Linked DNA regions of Homo sapiens: region 2 is linked to region 1. Evidence: fine-mapped expression QTL. A gene starts in region 1. The other region holds a variant in brackets. All regions are shown on one strand. Distances are between the middles of the regions. Region 1 holds the start of LINC01281 (long intergenic non-protein coding RNA 1281). Region 2 holds the start of LOC105373176 (a long non-coding RNA gene).

The links. PIP is the estimated chance that this variant, and not a neighbour inherited with it, causes the effect.
Region 2: its variant is the best candidate, but not a certain one, in a credible set for the expression of LINC01281 in whole blood (TOPMed, PIP 0.56).

The regions. Positions count from the first base shown.
Region 1 is chrX:39,318,085-39,335,047 of GRCh38, reverse strand. LINC01281 (long intergenic non-protein coding RNA 1281) reads left to right here and starts at 7,686. Exons shown (of 4, transcript NR_038968.1): 1 at 7,686-7,825; 2 at 13,118-13,279.
Region 2 is chrX:39,372,213-39,389,175 of GRCh38, reverse strand. It overlaps LINC01282 (long intergenic non-protein coding RNA 1282), which reads left to right. Exons shown (of 6, transcript NR_110385.1): 2 at 9,950-10,125; 3 at 12,194-12,314; 4 at 12,486-12,689. LOC105373176 (a long non-coding RNA gene) reads right to left here and starts at 5,523. Exons shown (of 2, transcript XR_949023.2): 1 at 5,408-5,523; 2 at 2,157-3,046. The variant G/A (reference allele first, on the strand shown) is at 8,585.

The sequences.
Region 1 (16,963 bases):
TCAGGCATCAGTTCTCTCTTTCTGTAGAAGAAACACAAAGGTTTGAAATTGAATCAAAGCCCGACATTCAATAGGGCATTAGTCCAGGACAAATTTTCCAGACTGTATTTTTTTTCTGTGACTGAAAACCCTTACTTCTTCAAATCTGAATCTTAAAAGATGAATAAAATTCATCTTTAAATAAAATATCTTTAATGTGAACTAATATTTTATTTTAGTGATAAAATAAATGAATAAAAAGAGTTTCAACTGGTTTCTCTTGTTTATTAAATAATGTAATAAATATATATTACATCTATATCATTTTTAATTGATCCATGGTGGAGAATTTGAAGAGCTTACCTTTTCTTAGTAGAGTTTGTGTTGGGAAACACAGAACTAGATGGCTCTGATTCTGAATAGAAAAATGTGTTAGAGTTCTTTGCCGATACAAAGAGCCAAAACGAAGGTTTCAGCTGGTGGTGTTCTAGTTTCAGGGGGCCAGGGCAGAAACACTTAGAACAGAAACTGGGATGGCATCCCAGCTTCCTGCCTGTTGTTCAAGCCCACCCTGACTTTCTGGGTGAGGGACCTGTTTGCCAATGCTATGCTTCACTTATGACCCTGAATAAAAATCTGGATACGCTGTTCTATGGAAGTAAAGCAAAAAACTTTAATTTAGGAACTGTCATATACTAGTGTATGGAAATCCATTTCTGAGGCCCTTTGAATTCTTGTTTTCATAGGACAAGATCAATGGCTAAGAATCAGATAGTCAAATGCTGGAGGACTCTTTACTGAGCTCTGCTACAGGCACAGTGCTATGTGAAGACATGGTCCTTCTTTTCTAGGATGTCTGTATGTATGCATAGTCTAGAGAAGCTGATATTACAAGAGGCCCAATCCCATTTTTCTGGACAGAAGGAAAGCAGTCGACAGTTATATAAATGGACAAATATAATTATATTGCTCTGGAGTGGGACTGCTCTATGATTTAATTAAATCAGACGCGTTTAGCCCATTTCAATGGCTATTGAGGCTTCTCACTTTCAGAGTAGCTTCAGAGAGCCTTTTGGACTGAATTGTCTCGATGCAAAACACAGCTGAGTTTTGAAAATGGAACCCAGTGTCCCCAGTGTATTTCTGCCCCCTGACAGCCTAGGAGTATTTTTTTTTTCAGAAAGTCGAGAATTCAATACATCATGATTCTTTTTTAAATCATAGAGCTTTCTGCAGCCAACCAATCTGGAGTCCCAGTGAGTTAACTGCATTCTTTATCCCAAGGCAGTTTGGTAGAAGAAATTCTATTAGTTCTGCTGGATGCTGGTCTGAGTCCCAATCAGAAGATGAAGCAAGAAGACGAGATTGGCTGAATATACATATGTTTGTTTTGGGGTGAGGGAGTATCTTAAGAAAAGAGAGTTGGATCAGAAATAGAGCTAGACTCAAAGAACACTGCAGGCGACAGAAGGCCAGCACACTATCTTTCCACATGGAAAAAGAATGCCTGAGAATGAAGCTAATGCCAAGGAAAGCAAAATGAGATGGAGAAAAGGAGACAGAGTTGGAATCTGAACTCTTAGCTACAAGCAAAGCTTTATATTTCTGATATATGTAAACCAATAAACTCCTCTTTTTATTAAGAATAATAAAAAGCCAAGCGTACCACAGATTTGGTCCAAAAAGTCTAGCTTCTTCAGCAGGAAGGCAGGTAGCAAGGAAAGTCCTCAAATTTTCAGAAATGTAAAGAAAGAATTAAAAAATGGGATCAGAGACTGTGAAAAAATAAAGGTGATAATAAAAGTGCTTTGGAGGTATGGAGTGCTTCATAGTTTCTAAAACAACATCAGTTCTCAAGACATACAATAGATACTTCAACTTGTCTCAATGCTGCAGAGCACTGTGGGACTATTGGAGCTTTGATATGAGTACTGTATGTTTATGAATGCAATCTAGGGTAGCATTAGCTTTTGGGGGCATTTCATTCCAAATAACTTAATTGCCACAAGGTTCCTATGGGATTGATAAGTCAAGTATTGTTATTTATTATTATTCCCATTTCAATAATAAAGAAATATTCAAGGTCACAAAACTAAGAAGCGGCAATATTGGGAATTAAATGCAAAACATCTGACTCCAAGCTCAGTGCTCTTTCCACCACGGTATCATCCAATTATCTATTCAGTTATCCATCCATCCATCCATCCATCCATCCATCCATCCATCCATCCATCTACTCTTCCTTCCTTCTGCTTACTTATTCATCCATCTATCTGTTCATCTATTCAACAAACACTAATTAGACTACTTTTATGTGATAATGCTTCAGGTTCTGGATATAAAAAATGTAACTTTAGTATTTAGACCTCCACAGGCTTTGAGGGCAAATGAGGTGCTATGGTTTGGTTATTTGACCTTCTAAAACTTATGTTGAAATGTGATCCCCAATGTTGGAGGTGGGACCTGGTGAGAGGTGTTTGGGTCACAGGGACAGATCCCTCATGGTAATGAGTGAGTTCTTGTTCTAGTTCCTGTGAGAGCTGATTGTTAAAAAAAAAAAAAAAAAAAAAAAAAAAAAAGCCTGATTCCTCCTCCTCCTCTCTCTCTCTCTTGCCTCCTCTCTCACAATTGATCTGCACACACCAGCTCCCCTTTGCCTTCTGCCATTAGTGGAAGCTTCCTGAAGCCCTCACCAGAAACACATGCTGGTGCCATGTTTCTTGTACAGCATGAATAACTGTGAGCCAAATAAACTTATTTTCTTTATACATTGCCCAGCCTCGGGTATTCCTTTTATAGCAGTACTATTGGACAAGACATAAGTCATACTAGAATTTATATCTGTGTTAGGGTTCTCTAGAGAACCAGAATCAATGGGATGTGTGTGGGTGTGGGTGGGTGTGTGTTGGCGGGGGGAGAGAGGGAGACAGAGATACAGAGACAGAGATAGAGAGAGATTTATTTTAAGGCATTAGCTCACACAATTATGGAAGCTGGAAAGTCCAAAATCTGCAGGATAGGTTAGCAGAGGCTGAAGGCCCAGGAAAAAGCTAGTGTTCTGACAGAATTCCCTCTTGGTCAGAGAAGGTCAGATTTTTGCTCTATTCAAACCATCAGCTGATTGGATAAGGCCCACCCATATGAGGGAGGGTCATCTGCTTTATTCAAAGCCCACCCATTCAAATGTTAATCTCATCCAAAAACACCCTCACAGAAGCAACCAGAATAATGTTTGACCAAATATCTGGGCACTGTGATCCAGCCAAGTTGACACATACAATTAACCATCATAGTATTTAAGTTGCAACAGCATGTTGTTTCTACCGAAAAGGCTACAGGATGATAAAGTTTCCTCCAGGTTTTTCTGAGACTGCTCAGAGAAAGCTTTGACTGTGAGAAGAAGTCCACTCAGGTTTTGTAACTTTGGCATCTTAGAGGAGAACCACAACCAGTCAACCATTCAGGAGATGACTCTTCTTCATGGACCCTGCTCCAACGCTGCTGAGAAGATGTGGTTCCCCTGGGGACTATGGTCATACTCACAGTTCCACCACACATCAGTTCTTTCCGGCAGTGCCAACCCTGAAGTGCTAGAGTGCCAAAGTTGCATTGAGATCTAGAGTGAAAAGATATGGGGAAAGAATGACTTCCTCTCCAAACTTGGGTGGCTTTTTATCCCTTGGGTCCTGGAAAGTTCCACTTGTCTCTGTCTCACATGCTTTTATAATGAAATCAGCCTTTTCCATGTTGACCTTTACCCAAATGGTCTAACTGATTGCACTTTAAATATATAACCACAAACCTCGAAATAGCATTCTAACCACATGGCAAGCCTTCTTAGGAAGCTTGTTAAATTTGCCCTCTGATAAACCTACTTCACACTTTCTTCTCTTTCTTCAAACGTACATTTCCCCAACTCCTTACTCAAAAGCTTATGCTCTCATGTCATTCTTTGTTAACAAAGTGGAAATAATGACATGAAGCCTCCATATTTTCAACACTAACCCAACAAATTTACATGCTCTGATTTCCAAGTTACCAAGTTACCAAATCCAATGGACACTCTCCTTATCCCTCATTGTGCTGGTTCTCGCAGAAGCAATTGACACAGTTGGCCCTCCCTGCTTCTTCTTCTCTTTTAAATTTAAAATTTTTTTGAGACAGGGTCTTGCTCTGTCACCCAAGCTGGGGTATGGTGGCACAATCACAGGTCACAGCAGCCAGCTCAATCTCCTGGGTTCCAGCAATCCTCCCACCTCAGTCTCCCAAGTAGCGGGGACTACTGGTGCAAATCACCACACCTGGCTAATTAATTTTGTTTTTGTTTTTTGTAAAGACAGGGTCTCACTGTTTCCCAGGCTGGTATTGAACTCTTGGCCTCAAGCGATCTTCCTGCCTCAGCCTCCCAAGTAGCTTGGATTACAGGCACCAGCCACCATGCCTGGCCCTCCCTGCTTCTTAAAATACTTCCATACCTCATTTTTCATGACACAAATTTTGCTCTTTGTCTTCTACTCAACTTCTACAAAGATAACTCCAAGGTTTAGTCTCACAGTCATCTTTTCTTTATCTATACCTACACTCCTAGGTGATCGCATACAGTCTCATGACTTTGAATACTGAAGCATCTATATTCCAGATTTACATTTCCAGCACAGACCCCTCCAAGCTTATAGATAACCTGCTTAGTTTTGTTCATTTGGGTCCTCCAAAAAACAGACTGGATTACAAGTGCAAGAGATTTATTGGAGGAAAATCCTGTCAAGTAAAACAGCAGGTAGGGAGCTAGAGCAGGTGGAGCCTCCAGAGAGCAATGCAGGTCTGACACCTGTGGAAGGAGAGTGAAGGAAGGGGACTTGGGTAGAAAAAGTCTTGGACTGTAGCAGAATTCCAGAAAATGTCCAGCCAGGCTGATGAAGAGTCCTTGAGCCAAGGTTGCCTGTCAGAGGAGTCCCCATGTCCTGCAGGAGTGGACCTGCTTTAGTATCCCTGGTGTCTTCAGTCACTGCCTGGGAGCAGCCTGTGGCAAATGTGGCCTCAGTGTGCAATGTAGAAGGTGGGACCATCAATCAACTTTGCTTCATGCAGCAAGAGATCTAAGTGACACATTTTCACCACCCCAATATCAGTTAACATCTCTTCTTTAATTTCTAACAGACATCTCAAACTTAGCATAGAAAAAAAATGGAATTCTTAATTCTTAATTGTCCTCATCACATATGTATTCCCTTTAAATTTTTGTCATCTTGGTAAATGGCCTCACTTTCTTCCAGATGCTAAAGCCAAAAATCTAGAAATCATTTTTTAATCTTTTGCCCCATTCCCTACATCCAGTCCAGAAGTAAGTCCTTTTGGACTTACCTCCAAAATCTCAAATCCATCTACTTCTTTCCATTTCCACTGCTACAGTCTTATTCCAAACCTCCATCCTCCCTCACCTGTTTTCCTAAATGGCCTCTCCACTGCTACTCTTGCCACCACTATAGCCGATTCTTCACAGCAGCCAAAATGGAACATCCCGCAGGCTGTTGCTTCAGCGGTGCACCATTATAATAGTACTGGAATTTGAGCACACTGCCTTGCTCTGCAATGCCCTATGTGATCTACGCCTGTGTACTTCCTTGTGCTCACCAAGACTGAGGCACACCTTGCTCCTATCTGTTCTTCAGACACTGGTCCACCCTCCCCAGTGCCTTTCTGTTCTCTTCCCCTATCTTCACACCTCTCCCTTCTACTCAGTCTTTAAAGATCATGTCGCCTTTGCTTTCTCAGATAGCCTTTCTCTGACCACCTTTTTAAAAGCAGACCCTTACCCCCACCCAAGTTATACATTAGCAAAAAACAGTGATTATTTCCTTCATAGCCTGTATCACTTTCTGCAATTACCTTGTCTATTCATTTTGTTTACATATTTCTCTGTCTCTCTTTATGCAAATGTAAACTCTATGAGAGCAGGGACCTTGCCTGTCTTGTTTAATGCTATTTCCCCAATGCTTGGCACAGAGCTGAAGATAATAGAAGAGACATATTGACTGTTTGTTGACTACTAAGCGAGTGACTCTCTCTTTAACAAGGGCTCAAAACTGTCCTTCAGGTGCTATTGGTAGCTGTTTCAGGTAGAAATAGGTTTTATTGCATATAACAGTGGCTTAGTCAAATTGTGATTTGCTTCTATTTTTCACAGACCGCGAAATTCAGGGGTAGTCAGTCAGTCTAGGACTGTACCATGGTTCTACAATGCCACCAAGACAGGGGGATTCTTCATGCTTTCATTTGGCTGTCCTGAATGGGTGGCTTTCAACTTTATGCTTGTTGTTTCACGGTCACAAGATGGCTCTCTGCCCTCTTTATAATGTTTTGTACAAGGTAGGAAAAAGAAGGTCAAAGATCAAAAAATATCAATTGGCTGAGTCTCCCTTTTTAAGGAGCTGTCATGGGCTGGGCTGCCCAGAATTCAGACTCTTAGATGGACATTAGCATGTGGGAGATTTATCACGGAGACCTTTTCGGATCAACAAGAGAGATCTGGGTCGTGCACAAAAGATTCTACCATGCAAGCTTTCTTGAAAGCCCATATACTAACTTCTACTTATATTTCAGTGGCCAGAGCTGTAGCATGTAGCTACCTTTAGCTGAAGGTAGCTGCAAAATATAGACTTCTAGTTGGGCCACCATGAACAAAATGAAGGTTCCATTAATAAGAAAGAAGGGGAAAATATTTAGGGTATTTAAGCAGGTGACCAGTGGCCTCTGCCATGGTGCCCCTTCTCTACTCTCTTATCTCTCTTCTCTCTCTTCTCCTACTGTTTTAGCATTAAAAATGAACAAACAAGCAAACAAACCAAACACATAAACAAAGCAAACAAACATGAATAAATCTCCTTCTTCCTTCATTAGCTAATAAACAAAAACTTATTAAAAGTCTCACAAAAACTGTGTAAAAACTTATGTGTATAGACCTTGCAAGGAAGATGGTTGCCACTATGCTAAAGATATTTTGATCTTCACTGGGGCCGACTGAGCCAAGATGAAGAGATGTAGATTCATCCCCAGGAAATACAATATAATGTGGAAACAAACTAATATATGACAACCTGATATAAGACAATACCCTAAGTGGGAGGGGAGGAATGTTCTAAAGGCAAAGGAAACTGAAAAGAGGAGCACCCTGGTCTATGTCAAAGAGACAGGGAAGGCTCCAGAAATGCAGAGATACTGAAGACATCATCATAAGGAAAGAGGAGCATATATTTTGCAGGGGCCAGAGGGGCAGGGAGCTGGATGACAGGCAATATACAACCCAAGCTGGAGGAACTGAGCACTGGGAAGCCAGAATCTAAGCATGGTGGAGACAGAGTGTGGGACAAGCTCAGGCACCTGCAGCAAAAATAGTGCTGGCCAAGGAGCCATAGTCCTTTCCCTGGCTTTTCACTCCTCCCGCCTAGGTCCAGAGATGCTCCTCTGGGCAGATCTCCAAGCTAGGGAAAGTGTGGCCTCTTGACAATATTGCTGGAGAAGGAGGGAGGAATGAGGTTTGTAGCCCGTGGCAGGTGGGTAATGCCTATGAGTGAATTAAATTCACACAAGCAGCCCTTTCACAATCGTCTAGACAGGAAATAGAGAAGGGAGCTCAGTGGAAAACATCAGTTGTGCCCACGCACCCAACTGTTCCAGTAACATAAAAGCAACAGCAGTTGGAGATACTTAAGGCAGCCATGGTATTGACAGAAAAAGACTCTGGATTTGGATTGCAGCTGTAGCATTTATTAAATGCACGTCACAACCTCTCTGAGCTTCGTTTTCCCCACGTTTCAAATGGGATGCAGTGGACCCTGTTGCCTACCCGGTAACTTTTTACCTTCTTTATCCTTTTTTACAAAACCTCAATGTCATTCAGGAATCCTCCTTGTTCAGTGAGGCCACATGCTTCAAAGGAAGCAGGCTGTAGTCTTGGCCTCACGAGCCAGAGAACTGGAGTCTATGCCCTAATTCTCAAATTTACAAGAAATGATTCGCCTAAGTTAAGTATGATGGTCCCACTCCCTTTGGTAGTGATTGGTTACTCATGGGTGTGTAATTTAATTCTGGCCAGTGCTCTGGGAGGGGAAGGCTTTGGAAGCCTTCTGGGAAAGATTTGGATGATAAAGAGAGATGTATTGAGATAAAAACTCTACTTTTTCTATTACACCTTATAATATCTGCAAATGAATTCCAGAACTCCAGCAGCCGTCTTGCGACCATGAGGCGATTTTGCCAAGGACAAAATAATATACCAAGAATGCAGAGGGAAAGATAGAAAGAGCATAAGACCTAGATGACTGAGGTGAATCACTGAATTAACCAATCCTAGAGCATCCACATTTTAGACCTCCTTATTACATGAGGGAGTAAATCCTTTGTTTGAATCAGTTGCACTGAGATTTTTTGTTATTTGCAGTTAAAGGTTATCCAACTGATACAAAAGTTATCTGCTGCAGTAAGGACTAAACACAGTGGCATGTGAAAGTGTCAGTCCAAAGCCAGTACACTAGGTCCATAATATATATTTATTCATTTATTTGAATTCTATTTCATTATAATATCTCTCAAAATCCCAACTACTTATGTAATTTTTTTATTTGAAAATTTTTCTATCTTTGGCTGTCTGGGAGTCACTAGCAATCTGGGCCATTGTCTGGCCTATTAACTATTTGACCTGCTTCCCAACCACTTCTAACTATTGGCCCAGGAGTGGTCCCCAGAGTATGTCTCCTAGCAAGAACCCACAGCATGGGGCTCAGGGCATAAAGACAGGGCCTTTGATTTTTAGCCTAAGGATAATTTCTCCTAGAAAGAATCAGGACATCTTAAAAAGCAGTGTACATTTTTAGAAAATATGATTTAGAAAAATCAGAATTAACTTTGTTTTGAAATTAGTCTCACAACCAAGTTAGGTAACTCCAAATGGAGCTCTGAATTTACAATTTCAGGATTCTTGTATTGCATGTCCAATTTGGGAATTAGTGCATAGACTCCAGATGAAACAATTTGACAGCACAAAACCAATGTACAGTATAAATATTCTTATTTCCTAACTACTTGTCAGCTATTTCCAGTGAGTAAATATTTACACGTTTTCCTCTCCCCCTGTGGAAAGCAGTACTCACATATATGAACATAAATATTTTGGTGTATGTAAATATTTACTCACATGAGCAATATATTTCTTTTTCTAGTCTCTGTTGTAAGTTTTTTAATAACAGAACAATTCCTGCTTACAAATAAGTTCTGATCTTGCAACTCTCCTAAAATATTCTGCAAATGAGAGGCATTTTATGGTAGTGGTTAATTGCTGATTAGTTAGAGCAGCTGGGGATAAATTTGAACTCAGCACCCTACTAGCTGTGTGACCTTGGGTAAGTTCCTTAGTCTTTCTGTGCCCTGAGTTTCCTCATCTGTAAGATGAGAGTAATAATAGTATCTAACTTATAGGATTTTTCAGAATATTAAATAATTTAGTGCATATAAGGTGCTTCACAACACTTGGCATATTGTAAACCTTTAATAATTAAATATTAAAATGAATATTTTATCATTGTCAGTTACAGAAAATGTCATTTTTTTCTATTTAGTATTATATTATGAATATAAATATATTTATAAATAATATCTTAATTTTATGTCTCTTTTTTATCATTCAAAGAATTTTCAAATGCTAACAATAGATTCCATGTGAGTAAATTACCCTAGACTGGCTTTTGATTATTTCTCACAATCCACTGGGTTAGTGGCCATCATTTTTTAAGCACTTACTGTTTGCCAGGCATTGTGTTATGTGCTTTCAAAGGCAACATTTAATTTAATCATCACAGCAACATATGAGGGTTTTCAAACTAAAAAATAGGGCCTCAGTGAGGATAATTAACTCATTTTACATTAAACAACTGGAAAGTGATAGAGTTGAGACTCAAACCCGGGTCTTCTTGATGTGAAAGTCCTTGCTCCAAACCATTATGCGATCTTGTTTCCATCATTTACATAGAGATGTCCCTTGCAGGAAGGGTTCGGTGTTTTAAAATTTTCTTTTGTCAGGAAAGTAGAGTAAATTTTAATTTATGTTCTGGCCTCTGGGAAAATATACATCATTGACAAATCAACATTGCCTCACTCAGAGCCTTATCAACACCATGTTATAAAATGTGGTTGACTGTATGGTGTTGAGACTCACCCCACAGTACCCCATCTTTTGAGTTTTAGCTTGGATTCTTTTCACAGACTCTAGACAAGATACAGAATCTCCCTGCCCCCGATGCTGATCTTGTATTCATGCTGCCCAGCTCCTCCAGATGGTATGTTGAATCGAAATGTTGGATTTCAGCCATGTGGTCCCTGTTCTCAGGAAGCTCCCAGAGACATCCTCTGATTAGGTATCCTTGGCACATGAGGAAATAATGTCTCCCAATTATTGGAATCTTCTCTTGCTCTTGACCACCAGGCCTGTCAGCAATCATTGGACCAAAGCCAATGGTATTTTCCAGTGTCCCATGCCCTTGCAGCACTTTTTCCATACAGCTATAACCCAGATGTCAGGAAACTTACTCTCACTGCCTCCACAGCCACCTGCATCCATAAAGCTGCTGACCACACAGCAGACTATGGTGTCCAGTTACTGACAGGATTCATGTGGCCAGAGCCTACTTGGCCACCTGAATTGCCTTGGAAAGATGACCTACACCTCCCTTTCACCTTCCAAATCTCTCAGAATTATATCAAATGGGCAGAACTCTAGTTCTAAAGTAATGTTCAAAATATGGTTTATTTTGTTTTACATTTTTAATTGACACATAATAATTGTACAAATTTATGCGGTATTGTGTGATGTTTTGATAAATGTATGCATCTTGTAATGAGCAAATCAGAACAATTAGCATATCCATTACCTCAAACATTTATCATTTCTTTGTGGTGGAAACATATAAAACTGCTCTTCTACCTATTTTGAGATATACAATACCTTATTGTTGACTATAGTCACCCTACTGTATAATAGGACACTAGCACTTGTTCTTTCTTTCTAGATGCATCTTTTTACCCATTGATCAGCCTCTTCTTATCCCCTCTTCCCCCATACTCTTCAATCTCCGGTAACCACTGTTCTATTCACTGTTTCTACGAGATCAAAAAATTTTAAGATTGTTCGTATAAGTGAGATCATGTATTGTTTTTCTGTGCCTGGTTTATTTCACTTAACATATGGCTTCCAGGTTCATCCATTCACATTGTCGAAAATGACAATTTTATTCTTTTTTTATGACTGAATAGTATTCCATTGTGAATATATACCACATTTCCTTTATCCATTCATCTGTTGTTGGACACTTGGGCTGATTCCATATATGGCTATTGTGAATAGCACTGCAATGAACATGGAAATGCAGACATCTCTTTGATATACTGATTTCATTTCCTTTGGATATATACCCAGCAGTGGGATTGCTGGATCATATGGCAATTATAGTTTTAATTTTTTGAGGAACCTCCATACTGTTTTCCATAATACTGTACTAATTTACATTTCCACCAACAGTGTGTAAGGATTCGCTTTTCTCCCAATATGTAGTTTTTAGCTTTCCAATATACCCAAATAGAAAGTGGTTCAACTGGAGTTTGAGAAAAGTGAATCCAGTTATCCAGCACAATTCTCTCACACGGACCTGTTCTGAATTTCCTTTATGAATTTTTGGGTTGAAGGCACACCTTCTTATTCCCTTGGTCTCTCTTTCTCTTAGACACCACTTATATTCAAGTTCATGAACAAATTAAGAAACAGTGATTTATTATTTAAGAATCACTTTTGAGCACCTACTTGTCTGAGAAGACACTGTATTAGGCACAAACAACACAGAAAGGAATAAGATTTGGTTCCAGTTTTCAAAAAGTGCACAGCCCTTAAAGGTAGAGGGACAAGAAAGTAAATTATATGATACTGAGTGAGAAACGGTAGAAGAGATATGTGTGTAGGATTCTGTGGAAGTGCATCTAAAAAGTCAGATTCTTAACCATGCTAAGAGGGAAGTGTTAGAGAAAGTAGAGAGAGAAATAAGGAAAATGCATCTAAGAAGAGGCAGAGGCTGGCATGAAACTTGATAGACATTGAACCAGGTATCCAGCAGGTATCCAGTGCTGCCTAAAACCACTCCAGTACTTATCTTCAAACAACGTTTTATTTTGCTCGTGATTCTGCAATCTGGGCTGGGATCAGCTAGGTGACTCTTCTGCTAGCTTTGCTGGTAATCACTTTTATGATTGAATTCAGCAGGCAGTTTGGCTGATGGCTGAATTCAGCTGAGATTTTCTTTCTCTCCAAGTAGTCTTGGGCCTCTGTCCACATAGTTTTTTTCACGTGTTTTCTCTTACAGAGTCAGCTGGATTTCTTAGACAGTGAATCAGGCTCCCAAGAACAGAAAAACAAAAGCTGCCAAGTCTTCTTAAATATTAGGCCTGTAGCTATTCAAGTGTCACTTAAAGGTAATCGTAGGAGACCGGCCCAGATTCAAGGGGAGATTACAGAAGGGCATTAATGCCAGAAGTAAGTGCATTAATATGGTTCCTTGGAGCTATCATATGATTGATCAGCTAGATGAAGTTGAAAGAGGCTCCAGTCAGGAGAAGAAATAAGAGCAAAGACCTGGAAGTTTATAGTGTTTTGAGGAAAATTAAGCATTTCTGGGTGGTAAGTTGGTGGGTATATAGGCACCAATGAGTAAGATAAAGCTACAGTGCTGGCTTCTTCAACCATGATCTCTGCTTGGCTCTCATCACTTGCCTCATCTGACTTCCCTGGACTTGACTTGCTTCCTGGCAATGACTCCTGGTCTGCTGAACTCCCACCTGATCTAGCTCTTTTTTGATCAGATAAATATCAAAGCTATGTTGGCAATTGTTATCTGACCACTGAAGCCATTTTCTCTTCTTTCTGGGCACTCGGGTAGACCATAATTCTCAGCTTCTCTTGTGGTTAGTTTTGGCCATGTTAACTGAGTTCAGGCCGAAAGAACATGGGTGCAAGTGGTGACGTGCAATACTTCCAGACTTGGATTGTTGAAAACCTTCCATTCCATCTTCCGTTTTTTTTCCCTCTCCAATTGGCTGCAAATAGAGAACAACTTCAAAGCAACTTTGAGAGCCTTGTATGGAAGATGGCAACTTTGAGAGCCTTGTGTTGAAGATGGCAAAGCCACAAGATGGAAAGTGCTTGGGTTCTTGGATCATTGTATGGAGGGGTTCTGCCCAACTAGGATCACCCAGGCTGGATTGTCATGTGAGTGATAGTAAAACAATTTTTGTTGTCATAAGCCCTTGAGTTTGTGGATGTTCATAAGTTATAGCTGTCAGCATTGCCTCAACTAATATAACGGGGAACCGAGGAGGCAGAGAAGTTCTTAGCATCACCCTGAGAAACAGGAGAATTTGTGGGGAAGGAGATTGCATGAAGGGGAGGATAATAACTCAAGCTGAAGCAGGGCCAGCCAAATCTGGGAAGAATTCTTTGAATGAGGTAATGACAGTCTTCCTTTCCATGTGGCCAAATGTATATAGAGAAATATCTGGAACCCACTGCAGATTGACTCATTGACACATTCTTATCTGAAACTGAATTTTACCCTCAGTTTCTTAAAGTATCTTTGACAACTCGTATCCTTGGAAACTCTTCATATTTAACCTACTGACAGGTGAACAATATAGCTTTTTGGGTAAGTTAATTAAAGGAAGAGGATTTTATGTTAATGAAATAATTCATATTTGATTCTCTGATTTAATTTGGTTCCCATAACAGTCCCTCAAAGTTAGATGGACAAAATCTAATATATATGTATTTCTGGATGGAATAGTCAAGGCTGAGGGGGAGCTTACTTGGCTAAGACCTCTCAGCTACATGGAAGAGGCCTGGGACCCATGTTTTCTAGCTCTAGAACATTTGTAAGCAAAATATGCAGACCCTGGTGATAGCCCACCCATACTGTCTAGACCTACCTGACTTCATTGCAGTTGAGGTGGACAATTCTAGAGCACACTACAGCTCTCCCTCTGCAAGGACCTGTACCTCTCAGCTTCTCTGCCTGATGATTTGTTCCAGCACCCTGGGAGTCTTCTTAGCTCAGCACAGGCACGACTTTGGAAATGTAAGGGAGTTAATGTCCCAGAGGTCAATCCTCAAGCAATGGGGTGCAGGAAGTTGTTGGATAAATACCCAGCCTCCCATTCCCTGAGGTGTACTCCACCTGGTTTCTCAGAGGGTTCTCAGCAGGACCGATCTCCAGCAAGCATCCACAGCTCATTAGCACACACTAAACTGGCTTTCCTCCCTTCCCTGCTCCCTCATCCATGCTTTGTGGGATCATCTCCCAAATAAACTGCCTGAACCCATTCCTTATCTTAGAGTCTGCTTTCAGGGTAACCCACACTTAAGCAGTATACGTGGACTAGAGAAATTAGAAGCACGCAGGGGAAAACAGGATTTTTTTTTTTCTCTTGCTCCCTCTGAACTGAACTCAGGCATGAGTGAGGATAACCTCTCATGGCAGTGAGTGAGGATAAAGGCCACATGAACACCTCATCAGACACTTCCTGTCAGACTCTCCTCCTTTTCATAGGCAGTTGGTGGCACCTGCCAGTCTGGACTCCTCTATGCATGGTGACTTTGCTCTGCTGCCCAGCTGGCACCAGGCACTAGATGAACAGCCTTGGTCCCAGACAGCAGCAGATGCTGCCAGCTCACCATCTCCTGGCAGCGGATTCAGGGTTGGGACTGGGCAGCAGAGTTTGATCACTTGCCCTGGCTGCCACAGTTTCCATCCTCTTCCCTGTATCTTCTAGTCATGAGAGGCCTGTTTGATAGAGATGTCAGCTCAGCAGTGACTGATGTGTTGAGACAAGCTTAGTGTGGCATGGTGCCATAGGGAGCAGCAGAGGGGCCTCAACCAGATGCCAAAGGGCCCACAGGCCCAGGTCTGACATGCTGAACTGTGGCAGGCTGGGTGTGCAAAGATGTCATCTGTGGGTTATCACCAGAACAGCTGTGTTCATTTGTTCAAGCATTCATTCATTCACTTGTATAATATTTACTGATGCTCCTTATGTGCCTGGTACTGTGATATGAACTAGGTATATGAGAGAATGAGAGAGATGTAATCTCTCCCTTCCTTGAACTTATAACATAGAATGGAGGAAGATATTGATAGAATATCAGACATATAATTATATGGAATCCTGAGATTTTCTTTTCCCCATTTCTCATACCCACCCTCCATCTGGAGCCAAAGCCCATATCAAGACAGAGTGCTTTAAAGATGGTGAAAAGAAAGAGTCCTTTAGTATGATAAAAGCTCCAGAGTTATGCCAGGAAGCAAGCAGCTATGCAGCCACTGGTAAGAAAATGTAATACACAGAAGTTCTGCCAGCCACTCTAATTATGACAGGTATTTCTTCTCTGCAGGCCAAGGTGAGACAGGTCAGTAGGTGGTAACTCCTGGAAAATGGGGTGGGATCATTATTTGCAGGGAGGTATAAATGGCTAATATAAGAGCAAGTGTGACTTCTTCTCTAAGTGCATGCCATCACATACTAGCATCTCAGGGCTAATGAGCATAAGGAAATAAAGTTCTAAACATGGGATTTCAACATTTGTAGGGAAAGAGTTGGGATGTGGGGACAGCTTATCTTTCTAGGGTCTTCCTTGTGTTTCTCACATAGGCTGGCCTGGGTCTGGGAGTGCTGAGGTTGGGGCTTGGGCTTCCTGCTTGTCTAGAAAAGGGCCAAATCTCAGCTCCAGTCATTGTTGGTCTCCAGGGCTGCTCAAGATCTGGTTCTTGCAGATGCTATTTGGAGCAGCTCCCAAGCCATTAAACCCTTCCTCCTGGGGAGCTCCACAGCTGTCAGAGACGAGGAGGAGACAGGGTGGAACAGCCAGTTCAGATTCACTTCAAACCAGAAGTGGAACAATCCCTGTTACATTATTAATCCCTGGAGCCATGTAAAGTTTCATCTGTTTTCTCTCAACGATTTGTTACAAACTACATTTTCCAAAAGCTGCAAGACCTACGACCAAACAGCATCTTTCACATGTGTGTGAAAATCCTGGGGTAACTCCTACAGGGCTAAGAGCAGAGGGCATGGGTTCTAATCTTGCCTTTGACACAAGCCAGCTGTGTGACGATGACAGGGCCACCTTTCCCCTCTGAACTTCAGTGTCTGTATTGGTTAGCTATTGCATGTAAAAATACCCACAGTCTTAGTAGCATACAACAATAACAATTAGTATCACAGATCTGCGGGTCGGCTGGGGTTTGGCCAATCTAGTCTGGGCTCAGCTTAGCAGCAATGCTTCAGACTGTAGTGGTTCTGCTTCATATCACAGGACTGGGGCTTGGATGGGCTAACTCTGCTCCACATGCTAGTGGGCTAGACAGCTGTTATGGTTTGAATGGTTTTGTCTCCTCCAAAATTCATATGTTTGAAATTTAATCTCCAATGCAACAGTGTTGGGAGGTGGGGCCTCTTGGAAGGTGTTTAGATTATGAAGGCTCTGCTCTCATGAATGAATTAATGCTGATAATGCTTGTAGGAGTGGGTTCACTCTCTTCTGCTCTTCTGCCATGTGAGGGCACAGAGTTCATCTGTCTTGCCCTCCCACCTTCTGCCACATGAAGAAGCAGCAAGAAGGCCCTCACCCAGGTGTCAGTGCCTTGATCTTGGACTTCCAGCCTCCAGAACTATGAAATAAATAAATTTCTGAGGTATTCTGTTATAGCAGTACAAATGGACTAAGACAACAGGCATGTTCTCTGCAACAGCAGAGGTATCAGGAGGAAGTGGAAATATGTGAGACCTGTTAAGGCCTAGGCTTAGAACTAGCATAAGTCCCACTCCACTGGCCAAAGCAAGTCAGTTGGCCCCAAATCAAGAGGTAGAAAGTATGCTCCACCCATGATATGCCATGACCATG
Region 2 (16,963 bases), 54 kb before region 1:
CATAAATGTGAAATCTGAGCAGAGCTCAATGGGGACAGCTTTTCTCTGTTCCACAAAGCATCAGTTGGGGCAGCTCAAAGGCTGGGGGCTGGAATCATCTGAGGGTTCGCTTACTCACATGTCTTGCAGTTGATGCCGGCTATTGGCTGGGGCTCAGTGGGGACTGTCATCCCTACATGTGACCTTCCCATGTGGGCTGGGTTTTCTCACAACATGGTGGCTTGGTTCCAAGAATGACTGTTCCAATAGGACCAGGTGGAAGCTGTATTGTCTTTTTATGGTCTCAGAAGTCATATAGCATCACTAGAATCATAACCACTATAATTATAGGCCTGCCAAGATTCAGCAGGTGTAAACAGAGGCCCCATTTCTTGAAGAATTAGTGTGAACTTCACATTTAAGAAGATAACATGGGGTGGAATATTTTGGTGCAGTCATCTTTGGAAAATACAATCTGCCACAGGCAGAGAGAGGGCAAAGAGACTGAGCTAGCACGTGGAGCCATCCTCAACTTCCTGGTGCTGTGTATGGAAGTCGTAAATTCCACAGGCCCTAATGGGACTGCAGGGGACAACTGAGGGTCAGTTTGGGGACCTTATCAGGGAAAATTGCTGCTACCAGGCCAAGGGCTGAGTGAATGTCATGGCCACACCTCAAGGTGTCTGCATCACCATCAAGAACTAAGGCTCCGTCATCCATAGGGTGCTATGGGGTGGAGGGTGGTTTAGATTCCTGGTTGCTGAGGAAGGCCAAAAACACTGAGTTGGGGTGGATGTAAGAGTTAGGGAGATGCAATAGAAACAGCAGGAAGCCCAGGACCGGGGCTGGGCATTACTAGTAGAACACCCAGAATAAATGCCAAACACTGATGGGGAGGACTGGGGAATCTGTCTTGGGCAAAGCAGGTGAGAACAATACAGTTACAACAGCTTTGAGAAAAAGAAGATGAGTCGGAAGCAGGGAAAGGATTCTGGTGAAAAGAAGAGCTGAACTGGTTCTCCAGGTTGAGGGATGAGGAGTCAGCTCCCTTTTGGGGAGCCCAGGAAGCAAGGAGTAGAGCACTGGCCTGTCTTTGGCATTTCTACACACACGGGCTCCCTAAATTCTCTCACACAAAACCATTGTGAGACAGCTATGATTATCCTCATCATACAGCTAAGGAAAAGGGAGCTCAGAGAGGTAAAGAAACTTGCCCAAGTCATTTACTAAGTGACAAAGGCAGATTGTGCTCTTTCCCTCTCAGCCTTATCTAATAGAACTTTCTGAGATGATGGAAACGTTTGATGTCTGTGCTGTCCAGGATAGTAGCCACTCATCACACATGGCTATTGAACACTTGAAATGTGCCTAGTGAGGCTGAGGAAGTGAATTTTCAATTGTATTCAATTTGAATTCATGTAAGCTTAAATTTAGATAGTCACAAATGTGGCTAGTAGGTACCATATAGGTGAGGGCTGATATAGATCATTAGCAAGTCACTGCCTGCCTTAATGGAGTGGTGCCTTGCATCTGTCTGATGGGGAGCTTTTGCACCTCTGTGTGTGTGTGCACATGCTTTCATTTTGAGAAAAAGTCAAACTTGCAGAAAATCAGCTATTTCTTCATAATATTTAAAGAATCCAATTCCCAAACAGTTTTTAGTAACCAATATGTAGTGCATTTGTATTCCTTGGAAACTGTTTAGAAAGAATAGTACAGAGTTTGTAAATAAGTCAAATTCCTATATACCTCTTGTATTGCTAATGGTTTGGAGGAAACAGCTCCAACGGATCATTAAAAATGTAGAATAATTTTACATCATTAAGATTTAAGAATGTAGGTGATATCCAGCAGGAGAATGCCAGAATGGGCTAACTCCAAATTGTGTCAGGAAGTTACAAGCTACGAGGGCTTAAATGACACCTGCCAACATGAATTACTCTGTTACTAAGATCAGGAATGATCAGTCCTCAAACACTAGGAGAGGGAGAGATGAGAATGAAGATTTTAAAAAATCTCAAACTAGTATCATGGCTTAATTAGCCACCAAACTAGAATTTGTACAACCTAAAGAGGGTTGCCTTTCACAGTAGGAATTGAAGGAATGTTGAGAGTAATGACAGCATCATCATAATCAGTACATAGCTTCCATCAATGACTTCTCTGAAAGAGAAACAGTCACTTAAAGGTTTTATTTATTTACTTAAAATTCATTCATTATTCATCCATTTTGCTTAAAATGCAAAACCATTCCTTTCTTAACACATCCTTTACTCAATAAAAATAAGCTAACCTTGCTTGATTAACAACATGAGCTCTGAGACATGCTGAAAAACAGTGGTTATTAGAAACTTTGCACCTAGCTTATTTAAAGACAACCATTTCATCCAAACAGATGAAACATTAGGCAGCTCCATACATCGTACAATTTGTTCAGTGACATTTATTGGAACTTGAGTTCCTTCTCCAGATCTTACAACCAACAGATTTTCAAAGCACTGGAACGGAGTCTGTCCCATTTTTTTCCTGCCACGTCCAGATCATGCCATTTGCCTTGCTCAAACTTTCCCTTGTCTTAATGTTGCAGACTGATCATGGGAAAAGTATAAAGAGGTTGGGACTTTGAGATTCCATTCTTGTTTTCTGAAAGGTGCTGTTGCCTCCTATTTGATTTCTAGAAAGAGGGAAGGGATAGGCTGGCCCTAAAGATAAGGCTACAGACTTGGAAGCACAAGAGAAATAGGTAGAAAATTAAGGCAAGGACTTAGGGTACACACAGTTGAAGACAGGAGTACAATGTCGGGGCTGGACTAGAGGCAAGCAGGAACTTGTAAAAGTCAGGAGTTTTGAAGTCACAAGTGACTTGAAAACCGCGTCTAAATAACTTAAGAAAAAAGAGAATGTGTCGGTGTATAAAGTCGGAAACTCCAGGAGTAAATCATCAGGAATAGCTGGGCCCAGGCACTCAGTTGATGCCATTAGACTTCTGTGTCTTTCCTTTCAGTTTCGTTGCCCTCTGATTTTTAGGCAGGCTCTTTCTTCCCGGTGACAGCTGTAGTCTTCTCACCTAGGAGCACAGAAACTCTGTTAGAAAGACTTTTTCTTCTTTCTAATCGTTTCTAGGGAAATTTCCAGGATTATATATCTTGTTGACCTAGCTTGGGTCACATATAGAGTCTGACCCAGCTCTTCTGGCTAGAGGGATAGAATGCTCTGATTGGCTACGTCTGGAGGATGAGCCCCAACCCTGCACTCCAGGAGTGGGGTCATCCTCACCAGAATCATGAGGATGAAGGGTGGATGAGGTAGATCTCTAAAATAAAATCCACGTGCTCTTATTAGAAGGAGTGTTTGATGCTGTTGTTGCCACAACAAAGCTGCATAAGAAACTACCTTAAAACTCAGAGACTTAAAACAAGTCTTTAGACTTTAGCTCATGGAGAACATCATCCATAATTGGTTACCTTCCTGTCCAAGTGTTAGAAAAGGGAACTGCATGTGCAAAGGTTTTGAGGCAGGAAAGATCTTGGTATGTTTGAGAAACCAAAAGTCAGGCAGGGGAGGATGGGAATAGTAGGGAGGGGCTTTAGGTGAGAGACTCATTGCAGGTAAAAAGGGATTTCTTCAGATTTATGTCTTAGTAATTTCCCTCTGCCTGTTGGGCAGAGAATTGGGTAATTAGATTGGAAGGGGCAAGAGAAGAAGTGAGAGGTCTGTTTCCATAGTCAATGCAAGCAACCAGCTGGAAATAGGCAGAGATGGTGTGAAGTGGGGAGATTCTAATGGTATTTTGGAGGAAACAGGGTTGACAGTTGCTGATTGGGGGTGGTGAGGGGAGGGAGGACTAGCAAAGATGCCTGATACTGGGCAGCAGTGTAACGTCAGGGAATGCCCAGGAAGCTAGTGGGTCATAGGACAATTGCACACTCCCAGGGGGCTGGTAGGAACATTAATTAGTTCATATTTGTCTGCATATTCTCAGATAAAAGAGGCTTTATAATCTTCAAACGAAGCATGAAATTTTGAGCTGAAAGAGGCCGTGTAGTGCAAATGAAGATGGGAATGGTTGGGATGGTAGACCAATTACAAGGAGCTTGAACGTTCTTGGTCAGCATCTCTCGGACAGCGGGTACTTCTGGTGGCCACAGAGGGTCTTTTCATCACCAATCTTCCATTCCAGCTGAGATGAGGTCTTTTATTTTAACCTGAAAATAAAAGCCCTTTCCCTGAAGACAGTACCTGCCATCATGTTAATTTCTTCAAAAAGGAAAGAAGAACAAAAAGGAAAGACTTACAGGGTCTTGGGAAGATTATAAAACTCATTAAAAGTTCATTTAAACTTGAGGCAGCCTTGATGTTATTCAGAGATGTTCTCCCAGGTTTAGGGAGAGGGGTAAAAAAGGAGGTCTCAGGAAGGCCTGGGGTGGGGTGAAGGTAGCAAGACATTATTCCCAGGAAGTAATTCCAGTGGACTAACATTAGATGGTAGTTTCTTCTCTTGTAAATTTGACGTTTGTCCGTTTCTTTTAACTGCATATTCTTTCCAGGTTGCTCAGATGAAGCGTCAAAAATTATATTAAAACGCTAGTTAGGAAACATCACCCCCAACAAATCCTGTTCATCAAAATGTTAGTGGTCTCTCTGGGGGCCCTGTGTTCGGTTTGTCAACAAGCTGAAGCCGTGGAGCTGGGGATCCGTGAGGCCCAGGAGCATGATTTAATTAATATCCTACCCATAATACCTTGCTGGGTTTATGCAAACAAAGCCCTGTCACTCCTCACCTTAGGATTTACCCTCTCCTTGAAGCAAGTATTTATTTACCCACAGTTTGACCTCATGATGGTGTTCAGCAGATGTGGATCTTACTTATTTGCATTGTTTTGTGACAGTTGGAAAATTCATTAGTGGTTCAGGGATAAATCCTCTGTGGACCGCCCCAATGATAGGTGAAGTAAGAGGGTTGTCACTAATTAATCCTCCTCTTCAGCGATGCTGGATATTGATGATAACATAGTGCCCCTTTCAGAAATTGCCTGTATCTGTTTGAAATTTGGGGGGCAAAAGTGACAGAAACTGCCTCTTGGCTACCTTGGGCAAAAGGGACTGTTAAAGGATGATATTGGGAGCTTAGATAAATGACAGGGAGGCAGGAACACCGGGTGGGAACCCAGCTGTGTGGCAGGCACTATAGAGGCTGGTGCAGGACAATGCTCTTGGGGCAAAGGAGTGTCCTGCAAACCCTCTTCTGGCTGTGTGTCACTCTGCTCACTGCTCAAGATCCTCTCAGAAGATGAGGTCACATAGCTGCCCTTTGCTGGATGAGGGTAGTGAAGGAGAACACTCTTTGGCTTCCATGGGGAGTGGCGAGGCCCCTTAGGTACCATCCCACCCACCCACATAACACAATGGGAAAGAGGAAATTCCTCACCAGCATAACTGGTAGTGGGAGAAGGTGTGCAGGGCCAAAGTTTGACCAATGTCCAGCATCCTGCTTGCTGTCTGTGAATCACTGCCAGTTCCCAAAGCCTGCAGGCATCAAATGTTTTGCTGCAAAGTGTCATATCTAAGGAAAAATGAGGGGAACTGGGATTATTCCACTCAACGAATCAGACTTGGGTTGGAATAGAACTCAATGGTGTATCAGCCCACTGTCTCTCTGTAAAGCCCAAAGCACTGTTAGGCTGAGGACTTTTGTTAGCTCTTCATACCAACTCAGTTGTAAAGTGTGTGGTGTGGGGATTGTCATCCTGTTTTATACAGATGAGAAAGATGGGGCTCTCTTCCCACGCTTTTCACTCTGCAGCAAGCTACATCTCTATGAGGAACATTTATTTGACAAGTGCTTGCCTGGAAAATAATGGCCAGCTTGTTTTCATCTATGCTGAAAGGCAAAATCGAAGAGATGGGCTTTATGACAGACACACTGATCGGGCAACCAAATAATAAAATGACCTCATACATTCAACACACGTTTACTGCATATCTGTGATGTGCAGTCTAGATATTAGCAGGCAGAGTGTTTTATGGGGAGCACTTTAGGGTTAGGCAGGCAGAAGGGCAACCCTCCGAAGTCCCTGGGCTGTCCTGGAGCAGGCACACCTTCCTCCTCGGAAGCAGTTGATCCTAAGGACAGAGAGAGTCTTATCTGTAAGGGTGGTAGAATGCACCAATTACTCAAAAGGCTCACCATACAAAAGTGTATTTTGGTTGAAGGGCAAAGCTAAGGATGGGAGTAGGGAGTACAAGGACCTCTCTCAGCACCCTGTCTCCTCTCCACCTGAGAAGATTCCCTGGAATGAAATAAGGCTTTAGAAGCTTTGGGGGCTGGGTGCGGTGGCTCCTCCCTGTAATCCTAGCACTTTAGGAGGTTGAGGCAGGACGATTGCTTGAGGCCAGAAGTTCAAGATCAGCCTGGGCAACAGAGTGAGACCCCATCTCTACAAAAAATTTAAAAATGAGCTTGGAGTGGTGCCATGAGCCTGTAGTTCCAGGTTCTCAGCTGAGGCAGGAGGACCACTTGAGTCCAGGAATTTAAGGCTGTAGTGAGCCATGATTGCACCACTGCCCTCCAGTCTGGGCAACAGAGAGAGACTCTGTCTAAAAAAGAAAAAAAAAAGAAAAGAAAAAAAGAAAAAAAAAAAAGAAGAAGACGCTTTTGGGAGCATAGAAGTAAGAAGAAATAGAAGATGGCCTGGAGGGAAGGGGGCAGTTCCTTAAGCTTCCTAATATGCTCCCGGGGCGTCTAGTACCCTGGGCATGTTGATAACTTCCCTTTTATCTCCTGGCCAGACCAGTCTTCAACTCCAGGTTTGTGTATCCAACAGTCTCAAAACCCACATGGCCACAATTCGGCTCTTGATTTTCACCACTGAATTTGTTACTTTTCTCGCAACTGTTATCATCTCAGGAAAGGGCAAATCCCTCTACTCAGTTGCTTGCCTTTGATACTTTTCTTCCTATCACCCTCCTCCCTCCAAGATCTAATCTGTCACTACTAAGTACTGCTCATTCTCCCTCCACAAACTCCCAGGACATCTCTTCCACTGCTTTTCATTCCCGCAGCCACCAAGCTAGAAGCAGCTCCCTCCAGCTATTCCCTTGATTGACTGCAGTTTCTCATAACTGGTATTCTGGCCTCTCCAATCCATGCAGCAGTTACAGTGAATTTTAAAAACCTCTCAGCATTATTTCAATGCACTTAGGATAAAACCCCAGTTCCTCCTAAGTCACACATGGTGTTGTAGTTCATGTCTCATTGCCAGAACTCTCCCTTCCCTCTCTGTGCTCCAGACAGACTAGGTCTTCCTTTGGTTCCTCCAGTGATTATGATGAGCTCTCACCTGCCTTGAGGCCTATGGAAGGCTGGATTCTCCAGGAAGATCGCAATGCAGATTTGAAAAGTTCCTGTCAGCCTAGTGGCAGCTCTGAGCAAAGGGTGCCCATGAGAGCAGCCCTTTGTTGGGCAGAAATGGCCAGCCGAGAATACCACCTCCTTGCTCAGCTGCTGGCCCAGGGCCGCTCTGAGAGGAATGTGACCTCAGCTCAAAAGCTGAGGCTGACCCTGCTGAAGCCAACAGCTGTAGGCTGTCAGCTAACTGCAATTCTCGTAGTTGGGCAGCAAATCTTTCCCTGAAAGGGGATCTGAACAGTGCTTCCTCATATATGCCATAGGAAGTCAACACATGCTCTTTCTCTCACTCCCACCTCTCGCATTGATATCTGTCCCTCTAGTAGACTGTCAGTTCTATGAGGGTGTGCATCCAGTGGCTAGTACAGTGCCTGGCACACAGTGGGTACTCAATAAATATTTCTCTAAAAAAAAGTGAAAAAGGTAGATAGAGAGGGAAGGAGGGATGAAGGCAGAGAGGGAGAGGGAGAAGGGATGGAGTGATGGGGAAAGAAATAAAGGGAGAGAGGGAAGTAGGAAGAAAGGAAGGAGAACAGGGGAAAGGAGAGGTGTAGGGAACAAATGTATGGGTAACTGAATGGGATCTAAGCTCATAATGGCCATCCTTTACCTCTTTCCCCTTTGTATCTGCCCTAAATTCCTGTGTTCTCCCACCTCTGGGCCTTTGCATATGCTGTTCTTTCTTCTTGGAAGAGATTAACCTGCACTTTTTATCCACTCACCATTCAGGTATCAGCTTATTCTCACGTTTGTAGGGAGGTCTGCCCCTGAACTCCTTTATCTGTTAGGGTGAGTTTAACTGCAAATAACAGAAGCTCAATATAACAATGATTTAAACAAGATAGAGGTGTGTTTCTTGCTCACACAAATGCCCAGAGGTAGGCAGTACAGAGTGGGTTTGGCTATTTTGCTCCAAAAAGTCTTCAGTGACCCAGGCTCCTTTTATCTTGTTTCATCCCCTATGGTCTCCATTCTCAAAGTCACTTATGGTCCAAGACAGCTACCCTGATTCCAATTATCACATTCATATTCTGGCCAACAGGAAAGATAAGGGGGAAAGAAGGGCACTTTCTGGAAGTTGCATACACCATTTCTACTTATAGCTATTGCCCAAAATGTAATGGCCATAGCTAGCTGCAAGGAAAGTTGGAAACTGTTGTCATTATCTGAGGTAGCCATTGTTCAGCTACAATTCAG[G/A]ATTCTGACTGTCAATTAAGGAAAGGATATTGGAACACAACCCCTAGGAGCCTTTGCAATACTCCTCATGTAAATGAGTTATTTATCTTTTTTGTTTCCATATCTTTGTCCACCCCTCCTTTAATTCATTCCAGTTGTATATGTTCAGAGCCTATTTTCGACTTTTGAGTTACACGATGACAGTGATCAGTCCTATTTTGTTTTTCTCTTCATTTCCAATGCCTATGCACATAGTAATATGAAATAGATATTTGTTGAATGAATAAATGAATGAATGAAAAATGGCTCTCATATGGGTTCTCATAGCATTGGAAACACATTTATGTTACAGCAACCATTATATTGTAGTATTGTGTGTGTGTGTGTGTGTGTAAATTTTTTAATTGGCATATAGGAGATGGGTTAGGAAATATTACCTTGGGGTATGTTCATTCTAACCTCCCTGAGATGGTTTTTACAATGTATTGCAGGTCCCCTTCAAGTAGGAAAATCCTTGGATGCTCAAGTCTCTTATATAAAATGGTACAGTATTTGCATATAACCTATGCTTATCCTCCATATACTTTAAATTATCCCTAGATTATGTATAATACCTAATACAATGTAAATGCTATGTACTGTCAACCCTCCGTATCCACAGTTAAATCCATGGATCAAAAATACATTTTAAAAAATTTGTAAGAAACAGTAAAAAATAACAATACCATAATGAAAAATAATACAAATTTAAAAACAATACATTATAACAACTATTTACATAATATTTACATTATCTTAGGGATTATAAGTAACTAGAGATGATTTAAAGTATCTGGGAGGATGTGTGTAGGTTATATGCAAATACTACACCATTTTATATAAGGCACTTGAACATCGAGATTTTTGGTATCCACAGGGATCTTGGAACCAATCCCTGTGGTTACAAAGGGACAACTGTAAATGACTGTTATACTGTATTGTTTTTCTAATTTGTAATATTTGTATTGTTCTATTGTTACTTTTAATTCATTTTAAAATATTTACAATCCCTGGTTGGTTGAATCCGTGAATGAGAAACTCATGGATAGAGAAGGCTGATGGTATTTTTAAATTGGAGTTTTAAATTTAAAAATAATACATGCTTATCATTTCAAATTAATATGCAGATACTTTACTGTAAAAACTGAAGCCTTCTGGTGTAGGATAGATTATTGGACACAATTCTTCACCCCTTCTGTATCCTTCTCTACCCTTTGCTCTGCCCCCTTGACTTTGGAGCATGGCCATGTGACATGCTTCAGCCAATAGGATGTTAGTAGAAATGAACCAAGCAGCATCTTGCCATGTGCTTATGTGGTTGTGCTTTACCTCTTGTATCTCTGCCAGCACCATGAGAAGAGCTTCTCCCCTGTAAATGGCCACTCTCACTTGTGGGTCCATGACTAGCTGAACTGAACCCATTCCACAGTAAGGACCCAAGCCCAGCAGATCTGCAGCCAAAACCAAAGTTGCTCAGTGGGACCCATGCCACATAAGCCGACCCATGGCCAACCTGAAAATAAGTAAGCAAGAATTGTTGTTTTCTAATCATTGAGGTGTGGGGTTGTTTGTTACAGCAGCAATAGCTGACTAATAATCTCTCTTTCCTCCCCCTCAGACCTTTATTCTGCTTGTGCACACATATTTCTGTGTAGATATGTGGCTAGACTATCAATTTCTTAAAAGTGGGGATTGGGTCTTCTTCATTTTTATCTTTTCCCCTTAGAACAGTGATTGAAAACACAGTGGAGTGGGAAGACAGGCCATGGCATATGACATTTCCAGTCAATAACATACTGCTGTGTGACCTCGGCTAAGCTGTGTGATCTTCCTGTGCCTCACTTTTCTTATTTATAAAATGGGAGTATTAAAATCTACCTGACATGGTTGCAGAGAGGAAGGTTTGAATATCCTAGCAGGGTGCCTGGCATGAATGTGCATTACAGAACTGGCATCTTTCATAGTTGGTACAAAATACATGTGTGTTGTTGCTTAGGTAGATATGCCTGAGATGAATAAGGAACTGATGTGAATAATGAGGTGGCTCAGAGTGCCTTGGTGACAGGTCAGTGTCCACCCTTTAGTACCCTTCTTGTCTTGTCATTGTTCTTTGCTTTGAGATCATTGAACCTCACAGCCAAGTTTCCTGGGAAGACAGACAAGCATCTTGTCCTTTGGATGTCAGCTGGTGGGGTGAACACCAGCCAAGCAATCAGAAGGCCTAGATTCTGAGGGCTTCTTCAGTCCATTAGGTAAACCATTCAGCTGTCATTGCCTGGGCCCAATACCAACCATGAGGCAAGGAGATGTTAGTTTTCCCATTTTGCAGACAAGGAAACTGAGGCATGAAAAAATGTTATGACTTACCAAAGAATGAACATGAATTACTGTCTGAGACAAGGGTAGACTCTTAATCTAGTGCTTTTCTTCTATACCCCACTGCCTCCCAGACTGTCAGGAAAATGATGTAATCCACTCCGAGAATTCCCCTCTGGAAGCTCCCCCAACCCCAGCCTGTCTATCTGAAGATAAAAGCAACCACAAATTCAGTTTACATCTTCTTTTACTCCCTAGCCTGTTTGAGCCAAGGCTGAATGGTGCCAATTTGCCTATGGTGGTTTTTATGATGTGGGCTGGGATCACTGGGGACTGTTCTGAAACCATCAAATTCATTTCAATTAGAAGTGTAACTTAATGTCCAATTTTCAAACCAGATTCCCTAGGTAAAAGGAGGCCATTTTGTTTGCTGAGCTGCCTCAACCCAGTGAACAGTATTTCTGGGTACCAATTATGCCCAATTGTGCACCCTGGTTGGGGCATTTTCTCCAAGTTAATAGGAGGCACAACTCAGTCAAAAGGAGGGGTGGGAGAGTCTGCATGGAAAATGGGGGGACATGTGAAATTTGAGCCAGTATAGATCAATTCCAGAACACTGCCCAGGGATTCCTAAAAAAGAACCCAGGGAAAAATAAATACATCTCATCCTTATTAACACTCCAAGCCCTTAAATGAGTCCCGATGTTAATCCCTAAGAGATGCCTAAATATCTATTTCAAATTGCTGCCCTACTTGTCTTATAAAACAACTTGTACTTCTTTTTATTCTCTCCATGTTCAAAAATAAAGGAAATTCCTTTTGCAGTCTAGGGCCAAGGAACAACCCAGGCCTGGCTTTGATTACTGAAAGCCAGAGAATTTTGAGTGAAAGCTGCAGCTGGCTGCCAGGCTTGTTATTAGCAATAAGCATCAAGCCATTCTCAGGAGAGCAGGGGCCTTTTGAGAATGTCAGACAGCAGCCTGCACCTCCTTTTGACAGCACCTGCAGTCACTGCTGGAGGTACAAGCCTGTCCAGAACTCCATTTCCCCTTGGCTGAATCAGCAGCCATAATCAACAGAGAAATAACTCCTTATATTTATATAATATCTACCTACAAGCAACTCAAATTGCCATGATCCTGTTTAAGATTCGACAATGGCTCCCCATTGTCTCTCAGACCAAGTCCAAATGCCTAGGCTTATTGTTCCAGGTCTTGTGACAACAGAGCCCACCTTAGTTATTCAGGAGCTTTTTTATTTTCTTTTTTTAAACAGATTTTCAGCCAAGACATTCTTTTGCAGCCTAAGAGGGTTATTATGGAGAGGTGGAAAGATCTTCAAACCTGGAAGGCTTGCTTCAAACCCCAGCTCTACTCCAACTACAGGATTGGGGCAGGCAAGTTACTCACTCTACCCAGGACTCAGTTCCTTTCTCATTTATAAAATGATGCATTCACAGTAGATGATCTAATCTAACATGTCCTTAGTGAATCTGAAATCTTATATATTTTTTGCTCCGCTAACAGCCCTTTCCAATCCCTTTCTCCCCACTCTGCTTCTATTCTAGAGGCTGGAAGAGCTAAAATGTTCATTTCTCAGCCTCTCCTTCTGCCAGCAATAAGACACTGGGAGGTCTGTTGATGTGGCAGATGGCGGTGGCATGCCCTGTGTCCCATGCCCACAGTCTAATCACCTCTGACTTCAGTCACAGCTGTGGTGGACAGTTCCGTGTGTTCCAATTCACCTCATGCAAGACAGCATCCAGTCTCAAGTATGTGCTGTGCATCTTTCTGCTCTCTGCTCCAGGGCCTTCTCTGACACTATGGAAGCCCACTGGGCCTGCATAAAAACAAAACTTGGAAGTGTGAGATTCATGCCCTTGGGATCGACCCTTAATCGATGGGGAACACGGCCTAGTGGATAGATGCTCCAGCCACCTGTCCTTTGGGGGCACACTTCTGGGAGGCATTGTGTACAGTTATCAGGAGGTCTGGGTGCAATTGAGCCTCTAGGGCCCCAGGCAGTAACCTTTTTAATATGCCTTTATATTGTCATTTTCGTCTTTACTCTCTCATTCTCCTTGCTTCCTCTTGCGCATACAGGGATCAGTTACCAAATAAACTATGTGCACTCAAAGTTTTTGTTTGGGGCTCTGCTTTTGAAGCTACTTAAACTAAAAGAACTGGCATCACCTCTCTGTCTTCTATCTTGACTGCAAATACAGATATGATGGCTGGAGCTAAGCAGCCCTTTTGGGATCAGCCATATACCATGGCTATATGTGAGTGAGTGTGAGAGGGAGAACAATTTAGGTGGCGGGGGATGGTGGTGACTCCACACTGATTGCCTGGGATGGGAGAGTTTCCCTTGGTTTCTCTAGGCTCCTCTGTTTCTATCTCTCCTGATGTGACTGTCTCCTTCCACTGCATATGACTTTAATATTAAACACAGCTTATTATTGTTTTTTTTTTCAATATAAAGTGCTGACACAGTGCAAGCCAACTACCTTCTCTAGTGGCTCACAGAAGAAAGAGTGATCTCTTTGGACACCACGGGGATGGTGGCTGCTCTCCAGTGTGTTGTGCCTCTGTGAGAGATTTTGATGGCACGTGATGTTACTGGCTGATGGAAGAACCCAAGCCTCATGCATGAGGGCCCCCACTTTTCTCATATCTGGAGCTACCTTCTTTGTGACTATAGCCCTCTGCCTGGGCCATTTCGTTCATTGCCAAATTTAGTCCCTTCTCCTAAGCCTAGATCCACATTGCCAGGGCCTGCTGTTTTTCCCCACGTGGTCCCGGTCATTTGGATTTAAACATCTGTGGGACTTGTTCAGTGGGCTCCCTCTTCTTGTCCTTTTGCCTGCCTCTGATACCCTGTGATTAATCATTTGGTTTTCCTTGCACAATGTGGCTCAAATGGATTGGTCTTTGTTTATATTCCTACCAGTCCTGCCCTCGATTAGGCCCTTAATACTTCTCTCTCTTTTTTTCTTGAGACAGGGTCTTGCTCTGTCACCCAGGCTGGAGTGTAGTGGCGTGATCATGGCTCACTGCAGCCTCAACCTCCTCAGGCGATCTTTCTCTCTCAGCCTCCTCAGTAGCTGGCACCACAAACATGTACCCCCACATCCGGATAACTTTTTTGTATTCTTTGTAGAGGTGGGATCTCCTTATAATTGCCCAGGCTGGTCTTGAACTCCTAGGCTCAAGCAATCCTCCCACCTCCACTTCCCAAAGTGTTAGGATTACAGGCGAGAGCCACTGCACCCAGCCCCTTAATGCCCCTCCTAATTGCTTCCTTGCTGCCCTTCTTGGTTCACATCACGCTGCCCTATTCACTCCCAAGAAGTTACCCTTTTAAAGGGTGTTGCTGAGCAAGACATTCCCTTGCTGGAGAACTTTCAGTGACTTCCTTTTCCCCATGGAATGAAACTCAGATTGCTCATTTTATTTTCTAACTAAAAGGAATCAACCATTATTGTGAGAATATATTACTTACAGAGCACCACATTTGGTTTATGCTATTCCTCCCCTCCCCCATGAAATGCCACTCCTCCATCTCAAGCTTTGGAGGTTCTCCCCTCCTTCGAATGCCATGTCTCGCCCTCGAGACTTTCCAGATATCTTCAATCAAATTAAAAATTTCCTCCCTTTTTTTATCCAGAGCAGTGCATACTTCTACTATAGTTTTCATAGATATGCTCTTGCATTGTATTGATTTTTGTGTGTGGACTGTCTCTTTACTAGGGTGTTACTCATTTGTATATCCTGGTGGTTTGGGGTAGAAAGAGAGGTGATGGATGGTGTGGTGGCAATAGTGAAAAGACCAAGCCTGGGTGGCAGCACACAAGCTTCAACACCAACTCACAAAGTGGTTCCAAATATTTGAATTCTACATGTGAAGAAAGTTAAGCCTCATTACCTCAACCAGTTAATTTCAAGTATATTTTCCTTTGCACAAGAGTGCTATATCATACAAATCTGTATAAATACATTTTAAAGTACTCTTTTAATAACTATACAATAAAAATTCTAAGTGGCATGAAAGCATTGAGTTATAATTTAAATGGTGGCATTTTTTCCCCTGCTTGGTACATAAAATATTGGGAGGTCTTATATTGATGGATCTAAGATTCAATGAAATATCCTTGCCACAAAGGAAAAAAGACAAGCAATGGGGCTCCTGACCCTATCTTGGCCATCGGGGAGGGTTTTCCTGAGGAAGTGACATTAAGTTAAGATCCATGCAAAAAAGGACACTAGGAAAGGATTCTTCAATTTTCTTAGGTGAAAGAAATAAAAATATAGCCCCTGTTTCATCCTACTTTCATGAGATTTCCCTACCAGAGGCCCATGGCTCCTCAGCAGGCCTGATTACCAGCTCCCTTAAATGTAGTTCAAGGCTGATTGTGCTGCATTCAGTCCCTGCCTCTTAACCTGGGGATGAATGACACTGACTGAGGCAAGGAGTACCCAACTTTTCAGGGAAGGCAGAAAAGTCAACAGCCTGTCCCTCCAGTGTATGATGTCCCCATTGCTTCAATGTCAGTGTACAATGCCAGATTTTGACATTGATTTTTTCAGATCTGAAACCTTCCTTTGGTTTGGGGCTTCATTTATGTGTGTTCACTACCTCGAAAGGTAACACTAGAAGAAGGGTTTTTAAAATGCTGCCTTGCAGCAAGGGGAAGGGATTGCTTATCTTGGACACACACAGAAAGGAATGAACCAGAGCCTTCGGAGGTTTCCAAAGTGTACTTCAAACCAGGAGCTAGATGAAAGTGAAATAAACAAAATGGCATCTTTATCATAAATATAAGCCAACAGGTTAACCAATAAACAGATTTGGCAGAGATAGTGATGTCTACTTCCTTACTTCTGGAAGATTTGGCTCATTGATCATGGGACTGTCTCCTACTATGTCCAGATTGAGCCTCAGAATCCTTCTCATCACACTGGTGCCAGGCAGCCTCTGCCAGTCAATTAAGGAAACTGATTGATTAGGGCTTCACTTCTGGGGGAAGGAACACTGGAATCCCAACCAAGAAACCTGGCCAGTATGTCTAGCTGTGCTTCCAGCCAGCTATGTGGCTGTGGGAAAGTAATTTAATTTCTCCAAGCCTCAGCTTTCTCATCTGTAAAAGGAGGGACTTGCTCTGAGTTCTTTTCTAGTTCTCACATTGTAAAACTATGAAAAGCAAATAGTGGTAGCATTGGAAATCCATGTGGGCTTAGAAATCACATCAACATTTTGAAGGTCTACTAGATGCTCAGTGTGGCTGTTAAATAATCTGTAAGGAAACAGAAATGTAAACTTAAACAATCAAGAGTCCACCAGTTAGGTCTGGGAGGTGACACTTGTGAATATGAAAGAATTAGGATAGTGAGAAAATCTGATACAGAGACAGCCAATGGAAATTCACAGAGAGAGAGACTTCAACTTGGGATGGATGGAGTTATATCTGCCAGCTATTGCCACAATAATACTGCGTAACAAAAACCTCCTTAAAATCTCAGTGGCATATAATAATAAACATTTATTTCATTTCCAGGTCTGTAAGTTTCAGCCACTCTGGGCCACTCTGGGCAGGACTCAGCAGGTCTCAGCTGGGTTTGCTCATGTGGCTGCAGTCAGCTGTGGGGCAACCAGATGGTTCTGCTCACCTTGGCTAGGCTCAATCATATGTCTGAGGGTCTGCTTGGGAGGTTATCAGATGATGTAGAATGGCTTTGCTTGGGATAACTAGGGTGAGTTGGCTATGCTCCTTACATCTTTCTTCCTGTAGCTTCTTGGCTCAGGCATGTACTCATGACAATATATTTGATAACAAGAGCACAAACAGAAACACAGACATGCTAATTCAAGCTTTGCTTGCCTCACTCTGCTAACATTCCAGGAGAGGATGAAGGCCGTCTACAAACGATGCTTTGATAACTTAAAGGATGCATTGCCCTGGGGCTAAGGGACTATTTTCTTCAAACTCATACTTATGATAATGTGGTTCAGTGAAGGATTGTTGAGTCACTTCCACACATGACAGAC